Linked DNA regions of Homo sapiens. The protein of the gene in region 2 purifies or fractionates together with the protein of the main gene of each other region. This does not show direct contact. Each region holds a gene or a part of one and is shown on either strand. Other genes may lie near its edges. The genes, in order: NCS1, KCND2 and GNB4.

Region 1 (3,656 bases), on a different chromosome or scaffold from region 2:
CCTCAAAAAAATAAATACATAAAAAATAAACAAAATTAAAGTTTTTTTTTTTTGAGATAAAATCTCACTTTATCACCCAGGCTGGAGTGCGGTGGTGCAATCTCAGCTTACTGCAGCCTCACCCTCCCTGGTTCAAGCAATCCTCCTGCCTCAGCACCCCTAAGTAGGTGGGACTACAGGCACCCGCCACCACACCCAGCTAATTTTTGTATTTTTGGTAGAGACAGGGTTTCACCATGTTGCCCAGGCTGGTCTTGAACTCTTTGGCTCAAGTGATCCACACAGCTCGACCTCCCAAAGTGCTGGGATTACAGGCGTCAGCCACTGCACATGGTCTAAATAAATTTAAGAGACCTATCAACCTATTACAATGGGTAGACTTTATTCTGATTCTGATTTCAGTAAACAAAGTTAAAAAAAAAAGAGTAAGATAACAGGAAACTAGAATAGCAACTAGAGATCAGAGGATATTAAGGAATTATTGATTGCTTTTGCTTTATGAATTTTTCAAAGAATCTTTATCTTTTAGAAATACATTTTGAAATGGATTAAGTATGATGATGTCTTGAATTTGCTTCAAAATCACAAGAGTGGGGGTGGGGGGGGAGGGCACAGATGGTACAAGATTGGCAGGGAACTGGGGATTCGGAAGCTGAGTGATGAGTACAAAACATTACACTTTTTTTTTTTTTTAAAGAGACAGAGTCTTACACTGTCACCTAGGCAGGAGTGTAGTGGTACAATCCTAGTTCACTGTAGCCTTTAACTCCTGGGCTCAAGGGATCCTCCTGCCTCAGCTTCCTGAGTAGCTGGGACTACAGGCATGTGCCACCACACCTGGCTAATTTTCATATTTTTTGTAGAGACAGAGTCTCTCTATGTTGCCTAGGCTGGACTCAAACTTCTGGCCTAAAGCAGTCCTCCCACTTCGGCCTCCCAAAGCACTGGGATGATAGGTGTGAGTGACCACAGGCGCCCACTCAGCATTACACTATTCTCTCTGCCACTGTGTATGAATGTTTCCATAACAGATAATTTGTTTTGTTTTGTTTTTCAGACAGAGTCTCACTCTGTCACCCAGGCTGGAGTGCAGTGGAGTGGTTTTGGCTCACTGCAACCTCCGCCTCCCAGGTTCAAGCAATTCTCCTGCCTCGGCCTCCCAAATAGCTGGGATTACAGGTGCCCGCCACCACACCTGGCTGATTTTTGTATTTTTTGTAGAGACGGGGTTTCACCATGTTGCCCAGGCTGGTCTTGAACTCCTAACCTCAAGTGATCCACTTGCCTCAGCCTCCCAAAGTGCTGGGGTTACTGGCATGAGCCAGTGCGCCTGGCCCATAATAGATAACTTTTTAATCCCTTCCCCAAATTCCCAACAACCTGAGTGTCCAACACTGTGGAACTGGTTAAATTATGGCCCAGCCATGTGATGGAGCATTATGCAGCTATGAAAAATGATGGCTCAACATTTAATGATGTGGAAAATAAGCCTCATCTCAGTTTCTGAATAAGTCAATGACTTACATCACTGCAAGTGATCTAGGAATTATGAGCTATCAGGAACCTGAGGAGGCAAATAAATCATTAAAATGATAGAACACAAATTGGATATAATCACTACCGCGTAGGCACAAGGAACAGCCCTATAGAAGAAAGAAGGCCATTTCCCAGCAGAGCTAATAGAAAGGGGGATCATATCATGCGAGGGCTCTTGTCACTTTGACAAGCTTGTCATGGAAATAATATGACATGGTGATTTGCAAAAGAGGACTGTGAAAAATTAGACAACGGATCAGCATTCACCATGGGACATGTCAAGGTACACGTCAAACATTTCTATGATGGAAATATTGGCCAGGCGCGATGGCCCACACCTGTAATCCCAGCACTTTGAGAGGCTGAGGTGGGTGGATCACAAGGTCAGGAGTTCGAGACCAGCCTGTCCAACATGCTGAAACCCCATCTCTACTAAAAGTACAAAAATTAGCCGGGCGTGGTGGCAAGCACCTGTAATCCCAGCTACTTGGGAGGCTGAGGCATGAGAATTGTCTGAACCCAGGAGGCAGAGGTTGCAGTGAGCTAAGATCACGCCACTGCACTCCAGCCTGGGAGACTCCATCTTGGAAAAAAAAAAAAAAAGAAATATTAATAACAGTGATAGTTCCTTTATAAATTGGTTTTAATTATATAATTTCTGTGTGACTCAGTTTACTGAGTGTTAAGTTTTGTAAGTGTTCAATTCTTTTAAAATCACTCTGGACACTAAAATGTTCACTGTGATTATATCTGAGTCATACATAAGGGGTTTTTTTTAAAATAAACTTTTTAATTGAGGTTTTCTCATTAAACATATTTTCAATGTCTCTTCAATGAAAAAGGATTTCTTGTGAAAAATAATAATAATAATAACAGACGCTTCAAAACAGTGTAGGCCTGGCCAGGCATGGTGGCTCACGCCTGCAGTTCCAGCACTTTGGGAGGCTGAGGTGGGTGGATCACCTGAGGTCAGGAGTTCGAGACCAGCCTAGCCAAGATGGTGAAACCCCATCTTTACTAAAAATGGAAAAATTAGCCAGGCGCCATGGTGGCAGGTGCCTATAGTCCCAGCTACTCGGGAAGCTGAGGCAGGAGAATTGTTTGAACCCAGGAGGCAGAGGCTGCAGTGAGCTGAAATCATGTCACTGCACTCCAGCCTAGGTGATGGAGTGAGACCCTGTCTCAAAAAAAAAAAAAGAAAGAAAGAAAGAAAAAAACAGTGTAGACCTCCTAAACAAAATGCCAACAAATCAAATTTTATGATACATAAAAAAATAACACATCACAGCAAAGTGGAGTTTATTCTAAGAATGCAAGGTGACTTAGCATTCAAAAACCAATCTATGGCTGGGTGCAGTGGCTCACACCTGTAATCTCAGCACTTTGGGAGGCCGAGGTAGGAGGATCACTTGAGGTCAAGAGTTCCAGACCAGCCTGGGCAACATAGTGAGACTCTATCTCTACACTACAGAAAAAAAACAAAACAAAACAAACAAACAAAAAAAACACTTTTTTTTTTAAATTAGCCAGATATGGTGGCAAATGTCTGTAGTCCCAGCTACTTGGAAAGCTGAGGGCTGAGGTGGGAGGCTCGTCTGAGTCTGGGAGGTTGAGGCTGCAGTGAGCCATGACCTGGTGGCTGGGTAACAGAGTGAGACCCAGTCGCAGAAAAAAAAAAGAAAGAAAAAGAAAAAGTGATGGATATCACTTCCAAGATTATGCTATAAAAAGACACTGGCTTTCATCCTGGCTCTCTTTCTCTCCTTCTCTCTTGGAAAGCTCTGAGGGAAGCCGGCAGCCATATTGTGAGGCAGCCCTGTGCAGGTGTCTACATGGCAAGGGAACAAGGCTGCCAAACCACATGAGTGAGCTTGGAAGCAGGTCATCACCAGCCAAACCTTCAGATGAGACCACAGCCCTGGCCAATGGCTGACAAGTATCCCAATTTTCCCGGGACTGAGAAGTTTCCTAGAACAGGGAACTTGCACTGCTAAATCCAGGATAGACCTGGGCAAACCCTATTGACAGCTGAACTGCATACTCCTGAGAGTCCTTGAGCCAGAGGCACCCAGCTTAACTGTGCCAAATTCCTAATGTTTGTTCTTAAGCTGCTGTTTGTG
Region 2 (3,656 bases):
TCAAACAGATGAAGCAAATGACTGGTTCTGTGGTCAAGAAAAGGCTGGGAAATGCTGAGGTGTTAAACAGGTTCCTTTGCTCCCGGGTTCCTCACACCATATGACATTGTGGATGATCACTGTGAGAAGAACAGGGATATATAATCTGCAAATTTCCTCAAACTAATTTGACATAGAAATCTTGTATTGTGAAGTACTCACAGGCTAGAATGCAGTGGAACACAATGGGTTTTATCAAGTAGATTGTTTTTTAATTACGCCAAGTGACATAAACTTTATAGTTTATGTTGTGGAACAGAGGGTGGAAGTCAATCTGAGAAGGATCTATAAGCCAAACACCACTGAGACATTGATTTCTTTAAATGGTCAGTCATTTCTAGATGAGGTATGAGGTAGATTAAAGGAAGTTATTGGGCCATCTTGTTACCAAATCACAAAATCTTTTGAAAAATAAAGGTATCCTAGGTAGCCTTAAAAGTGAGGTAATGAAGGTGTTTCTCTTTGGTAATTCCTTATTCCTCAAATGCCTGCCTCCACACTCCCTGTAACATGCATTCTGGAAATTTTGCTTACAGTTGTTTCTTTCATTTAAGGGTTAGTAAAATGCCTCAGTTTGAGGTAACATAGTAAACTTTATCACCTTTTAGAAGTTTAAGGCATTTATTGGAATCTTTTCACTTGCTAAGAAAAATAGCTGTGCTAGAAATGAGACAAGTTAGTACCAAACTACAATAAAAAGAGAAGAAAGAAGTCAGTGGCAGACAGTGCAACATTCCTAGGTCCAGAACTTGGTTAATCCTGGAGATGGCAGGGCTAAGCAGAAAAAGGGCTGGGATTTGGGTTAGTGGAAGAGGCTAAGCAATGAGAGGTCTACAAGAGGATTCCATGGTGGAAGCGGTGAGAACTGAAAGAGGATATAGGAGAGCATCCAAGACCAAATTCTTAGGTGGAATTAGGAGCTGGGTAATTTTGTTTTTAACAGTAGATAACCTAAGAGATCATTCTCAGGTTCTAGCAAGTAGTTATTTCTTGCTTTTTCATTATTCTACTTAAATAAAAATCTTTGATTTTGACATTGCTGAATGTACTAGGCAGTGGTTCTCAAAATGTGGTCTTCCAAACAGCAATATCAGCATCACCTGGGAATTTATTAGCAAAATTTCAGGTTCTAACCCAAAACTACAGAGTCTGATGATTTGGGAGTAGGGCTCAACAATCTGTTTTTTGTTTTGTTTTTTTTTTTTTTGTTTGTGTGTGTGTGTGTGTGTGTGTGTGTGTGTGTGTGTGTGTAAGCTTTCCAGATGATTCTAATGAATCTAAAGTTTGAAAACCACCCTAGCAGGGTGTGATAAATGGCAGACTACATATGGGTAGTGTCTTTCTAAGTCAATGTGAAATTTAAAAATATTACACTATACATTGGCTCATTGATTCTAAACTTCTCACTGCATTTAGAATTATCTATAGGAATATCCTAAAATATTCATAGTTCAAATAATACTAGAATTTTTTTGCCTTGGACTTTAATCACTAGGTTTGTGAGCATGAGCAAGTTATCTGTAAAATGGAAATAGTATACTTCCTTTGCAAGTTGATTGTGAATATTACAAAAAAAACAGATATAAAACACCTGGGACATTCTAGAAACTAGTGAGGGTTTTTGTTGTTGCAATTAGTATTATTAAATTATAACTATAATTACTACTATGATTATTATATGATAATTACTCACAGGTTAGCCTGTGAGTATGCAGATGATTAGGTGATGTGATCCATATATTAAAAGAGCTGCTTCAAAATGTCAACCTGCCACTTGTCATTGCATTAATCTAGCTTTATTTTGGCTAATACATTCTACTCAGTAAATACTTATAGTATAACTACGAGAATCAATAAATCTATTAAAATATAATTACCAATGGTGGGAGTAGAGGAGAGGTGTCACAGTTTAGGCCTATACCCACCAGCATGTCAGTATTTAGTTAAGACTTTATCAATGATTGATAGAAATGGGGTAAACCATGTATTCCCTGTATATGGCAGGAGTGGACAGCAAAAGTAGGAAGAGTACTTGCAAATGGAAGAAACTAGAAGAAGGAAAGTATTTCTGATAGTGATGATAGGAATTTTCTAAAATTAATATTGTGTCTATTTCATGCTTTTGCTTGGTCTTAGTGTGGCAATTGAATTAAACACCAAAAATATGGTCTAACAAACCATTTTGTAATATTACTTTTATTAGTCAGTTGGACTGACGTTTTTACTGAATTGAATGCTTGCTTGACTGAATTAGCTGGTCATTTTTGCATAACTTTAATATTTGGCACATAGCCCAGTCCCAGATAAATAAACTGTCTTAGCCTAATGGGCGTTTGTTCTGCTTTTTTTTCCCCCTAATCTCTTGGGAAGGAAAATAGAAAATATCCCCTGGTAACTTATTTAGTTCATATCCACTGTTCTTTCTTAGAAGATTATGTTCAGTTTATTGGTCACAGTCTACATACTGGACATATTATACTTGGTTATTATATTTTACTTTATTAATCCAATTTTTTCAGTAGTAAAACTCTGTAAAATTCATTGCATTATGGCAGAAACCAAAAATATAGCAAATATTTAAAGATACCAAAAAGCATTCACAAAATATACTTTTCAATTAGTGTACTTTTAGAATGTCACATTATTTACTTTTGATTTCTAAATGTATTTTAGTATTTAATATTTAGTAGACCAAAAGGCTTCTAAAATATTCTAAGGTTTTCTTTATTGATTTCTTTGTTGCAGATGACAAACTCTGAAGAAATACAAGTGTTTGGGAAATTGGTTTATCGGAAATTTAGATTTGTGCTTTCTATAGTTTTCATACAGTTGGCTCTTATACTAAAGGAGAAATGTCTAGAATGGAGATAGATGGGTGGTTGAAAGTTAAACTTTTGGTAGGATCCTGTTATTTTAGACAATGTGTGTTTGTACTCAGTAGAGGGACTGTACTGTATGGGCAGCGTCATGAGTGTGATGTTTGAAGGTCCCTGGTGGTGGGGTCAGTTGTGGCTGAAATCCCTTTACCTCTGCTTGCCAAGGGTATGTATTCCCTACATAAGACTACAACTGTCCAGAGGGTGCCTTTTTCTACTCCTCCCTATTCGTTAGATGATCAGTTCTCTATATCCATGTTGACTGGACTATTTCTAACTCTTCTCTGTAATAATTAAAGGCTAGGCATTTGTCCAAAAATGAAGGGTTCCATAAAGCAAGTAACTACAGAGCTTGAAAAAGTGATTCTTTGCTAAAGGAAGAAGATCTTTGACAGTGGGCATAAATTAGTTCTCTGGACAAATATGCTGTGTGGCCACAGTGATTAACTAGAACTTTCCAAAGACTTACTTTATGAGATTGTATACTTTACTTAAGAGGCTGACATTGTTCATATGCGTGCTTAAGATCCCGTTCTGGAATTACCTACAAAGCCAGTGAATAACTATATCAAAGTCTCTCATGATATTTTGTAGTTATAACACATCACCTAGGTTGTGCATCTACTTTAGTCATGATTATGAATGGTTTTGGATATTTTTTAAAAAATGAAACTATCCTTAAAGGACAAAGATATAATGACCATGAAGAACACTGGAAATACAGTGCCATAAGTCCAAAGG
Region 3 (3,656 bases), on a different chromosome or scaffold from region 2:
AGTAGTTAATGACAAATTTTCATATTTTAAACAATCTCTGGGTAAAGGTGTTTAGTTGAAAAACTGAATATAAAAATAAGGAGAAAAAAAATGAGTCAAGCCATTGCTAAGTGTTGCCATTAAAAAAAAAAATTAAAAATCCTATATAAGAGCCTAGCAATTATTAGTTCTTTGAGCATAGAGGCCATTGTCCTCATCTTGTCCCTCCCAAAGTAGTATTCTCTCTTTCTTCAGCTATAGAGAAATTGATAGAATCTGTTCCATAGAGAAAGTAGATTTCATTAATTTCTCCACAGCTGAAAATTCATGACAAGCTAAAAGTAAGAGAGTAGAAACAGTAAGGCCTCTAAAAAGAGTACTTTATACTTTTTTTTCCTTTCTTTCTTTTTTTAAGACAGGGTCTCCTCTGTCACCCAGGCTGGAGTGCAGTGGCATGATCATAGTTCACTGCAACCTCTGCCTCTTGCGCTCAATCAATCTTCCTACCCTAGCCTTCCGAGTAGCTGGAACTACAGGCGTACACCACCACGCTTGGCTAATTTTTGTATTTTTTTGTAGAGATGGGGTTTCACCATGTTGCCCAGGCTGGTCTTAAACTCCTAGGCTCAAGCAATCTGCCTGCCTCAGCCTCCCAAAGTACTGGGATTACAGGCATGAGCCACTGCAACTGGCCAACACTTTTGCATAATAGGTAAGAATTAATGTTTAAGGATATTCATTAACCAATTGTATATATGACAACAAATTAAAAATATAAATAGGAGAGTAGTTATGATGCATTCATACAGTGAAATATTATGCAGCTATTAAGAAGACAGCGCTCTGACTTGCAGAGATACTAAGAATAATGATATCTTCTGAGCGAATTCTTTTTTAGAGGGTTCCTACTGCAAGTAAGACAAGCATCTCAGTGGGAGTTTGTCCTTACCCAGTAAGGTATACTACATTTCTTTTGTAATAACTACACAGTATATGAACAAACCCTGCTAAAGCCAAAAGTGGAGGAACAATTAAGCTGTTACTGCCATAAATATGAAATATAGACACTAAGAGAAACTTTATATTATTTCAGCAAGTCAGTAGCATCTGAGTGTAGAAACATTTCATGTGATTTCTATTTCAAAAAAGATAAAATAACACATCTTTCAGCAATTCTGGAAGAAAAGGCTCTCTATAAACATACTGGAAAATGGAACTGAGGAACACACACTGTGAACTTACCAAGCATTTTTCTGTCCATAACTATTGCTCCAAAGGAAATTCTCCGGTCCCTGTACCATCCACACGACCTTGGCACAAAGGTGGTAGTGAAGCATGAAGATTTAGGGCACTGACTCTGGTCCTCCACTGCTGGAGTTTGAACACTGGCTTCACCACTTGTGTACGTTAACCGACACATGGTAGTCAATAAAGGTTCACTGAAATTATTACTACAGTTGAGAGAAAGAGGTCTTTGAACTAAAGATGGAAAAATATTAAAATACTTCAAGGGACAGAAGTATATTTAAGCAGGAATTCTTTTAAGAGATCCAAACATTTTGGGTGTGCTCAATAGGTTATTTTTTCATCCTAAGCCAGATCTCTCTTCAAATCTGTGGCTCATTTTCTTTTCATTCTTTCTAATCGTATTGTAATTATTCAGGAGGCTTAACTAAAGTTAAAATTTTCAAATCTATTTTTTTTAAGTTAATTATCCAGTTTGTGATCTAGGTTCTTGTATTTTAGTTTCTTCTTGACCTATTCTACTCACTTGCCGCTTATTATCATCACTCCACCAGAGGGCATACAAAAGAAAGGTGATAACGTGAAAACACTCAAAGTTGGTAACTTGTTAGCTTTCAGAGAAGCTGTAGCAGCATCACCAAACACCTTACGTAGCACTAACGCTGTAAGATTCTCTGGAAACCGTCTTCTCCATTTGAAACGGCATTAGCTAAGATACAACAAATATTAATTCATGCATTCATTCCTTCATTCAACAAATATCTGAGTCCCGACCATGTGCCAAACATATTCTAGGCTCTAGAGATTCGGTAGTAAACAAAACAAAACTTCCTATTGCCACAGTGCTTTGTTCTGTATCTGTCTAGGAGATAAATAATACAGCACATCAATAACATAATTTTAAGTACAGATAAGTCGTATGCAAGAAAAAAACTGCAAGAACTTCAAGAGGTTAGAGGGTGACGAGGAAGGCTATTTTCAAATAAATTAAGTAAGGACTGAATGAAATGAGAGGATGAGCTATGTCTTCATTGGGAGAAAGCATTACAGGCAGAACAGCAAGCAAAGGCCCAGGCAGAAACTAACCTGACATGCTGGACCTACAGCAGTGACGATGGCGAGGCTGGAAGAGAGTGAGCAGGGCAGAGAGCAGCAGATGAGACTAGAAGGGTGTGCCAGAGCCCAGTCACCGTCTCTTGATCATGGTATTAAAAAAAAAAAAAAAAAAAATCCTGATTTTTTTTCAGATGGGGTCTCACTCTATTGCCCAGGCACAAACATGGCTCACTGCAACTTTGACCTCCTGGACTCAAGCAATCCTCCCGCCTCAGACTCCCATGTAGCTGAGACCACAGATATGCACCACCACGCCTGGCTAAAACGTTTTTATTTTATCTAACAATAATGGGTTCTGACGACTGAGATATAACCTGCTTTGATTTACCTCTTTTAAAGTTCATGCTGGCTGGTGGGAGACAGAGAGTGGAAGCTGACAAACCAGTTGGGGGGCTCCTGCAGTCATCCAGGCCAGGGAAGAATACAGTTTGACACCAGGGTGGTGGTGGTGGCAGTGCAGGTGATAGGAATGGTCAAATTAACTTTTTAAAAAAGATGGTCCAATCTGCAGTGATTTTGAAGGTAGAGCCCATAATACTTGCTGTTGAAGGAATAGATTTAGAATGAGTGAAATGGGGAATTAGAATTTTTAGCCTCAGCAACTGGTGGATGGTGGTACCATTGACTGAGATGGAGAAGAATGAGAAACTGTAGCCAATGAGGCAGGATGAAAATCAGAAAGAGCGGTGTCCCAGAAGCCAAGGGGAAACGACATTTTGATAGGGAAGGAGTTATCTGTTGCCTGTGTCAAATGTGGCTGAAGATCCAGTTTGGCAAGACTGACATCCCTGGTGACCTGGAGAAGAATTGTTTCATGGAGTAGGAGGGATAATGTGTCTCTGAAGCGGGTTCAGAAGAAGATGGCAGATAAGGAGTAGAGACAGCCTACATGGAGTCCCTTCAAAGATTTTCTTTTTGAAGCAAAGCTGCATTGTTATTGTTTGAAGTTTTATTTTTAACTTTTCATTTCTCCCAGTGCTGGGATTACAGGTGTGAGCCACCGCGCCTGGCCTGTTTCATGTTTTCATTTCTCTTCTTCCACGTTGGAAACCCTAGTTCCCAAAATATCAATGAATTTACTCATTTGCTCAATCCTATAATGCACACAAAATAGTTTCAGAATTGCTACACCTCTACCATACAAATAATAGCCTACTACACAGAGTTCAAGATTATTTTTTCAGTTCTTTAATCTTTAATCCTGTGCTCAAAACTTACTTGGTTTTTTTTTTTTTCTTCTGGGAGTTTATATTATTCACATAAATACACGGTTTGTTGTTGCTGTTTGTATTGTTTTGGAGTCCCACTCTCCACAT

What was found.
Region 1: the proteins of KCND2 (region 2) and NCS1 purify together in Homo sapiens (affinity purification with western blotting, with the first as the bait; one study listed by BioGRID). This does not show direct contact.
Region 3: the proteins of KCND2 (region 2) and GNB4 purify together in Homo sapiens (affinity purification with mass spectrometry; one large-scale study listed by BioGRID and IntAct). This does not show direct contact.

The regions. Positions count from the first base shown.
Region 1 is NC_000009.12:130,227,749-130,231,404, reverse strand, and holds part of NCS1 (neuronal calcium sensor 1), read right to left. Parts: intron 1-3,656. UniProt on the Homo sapiens protein: Neuronal calcium sensor, regulator of G protein-coupled receptor phosphorylation in a calcium dependent manner. Directly regulates GRK1 (RHOK), but not GRK2 to GRK5. Can substitute for calmodulin. Stimulates PI4KB kinase activity.
Region 2 is NC_000007.14:120,734,670-120,738,325, reverse strand, and holds part of KCND2 (A-type voltage-gated potassium channel KCND2), read right to left. Parts: intron 1-3,656. UniProt on the Homo sapiens protein: Voltage-gated potassium channel that mediates transmembrane potassium transport in excitable membranes, primarily in the brain. Mediates the major part of the dendritic A-type current I(SA) in brain neurons.
Region 3 is NC_000003.12:179,444,913-179,448,568, forward strand, and holds part of GNB4 (guanine nucleotide-binding protein subunit beta-4), read right to left. Parts: intron 1-3,656. UniProt on the Homo sapiens protein: Guanine nucleotide-binding proteins (G proteins) are involved as a modulator or transducer in various transmembrane signaling systems.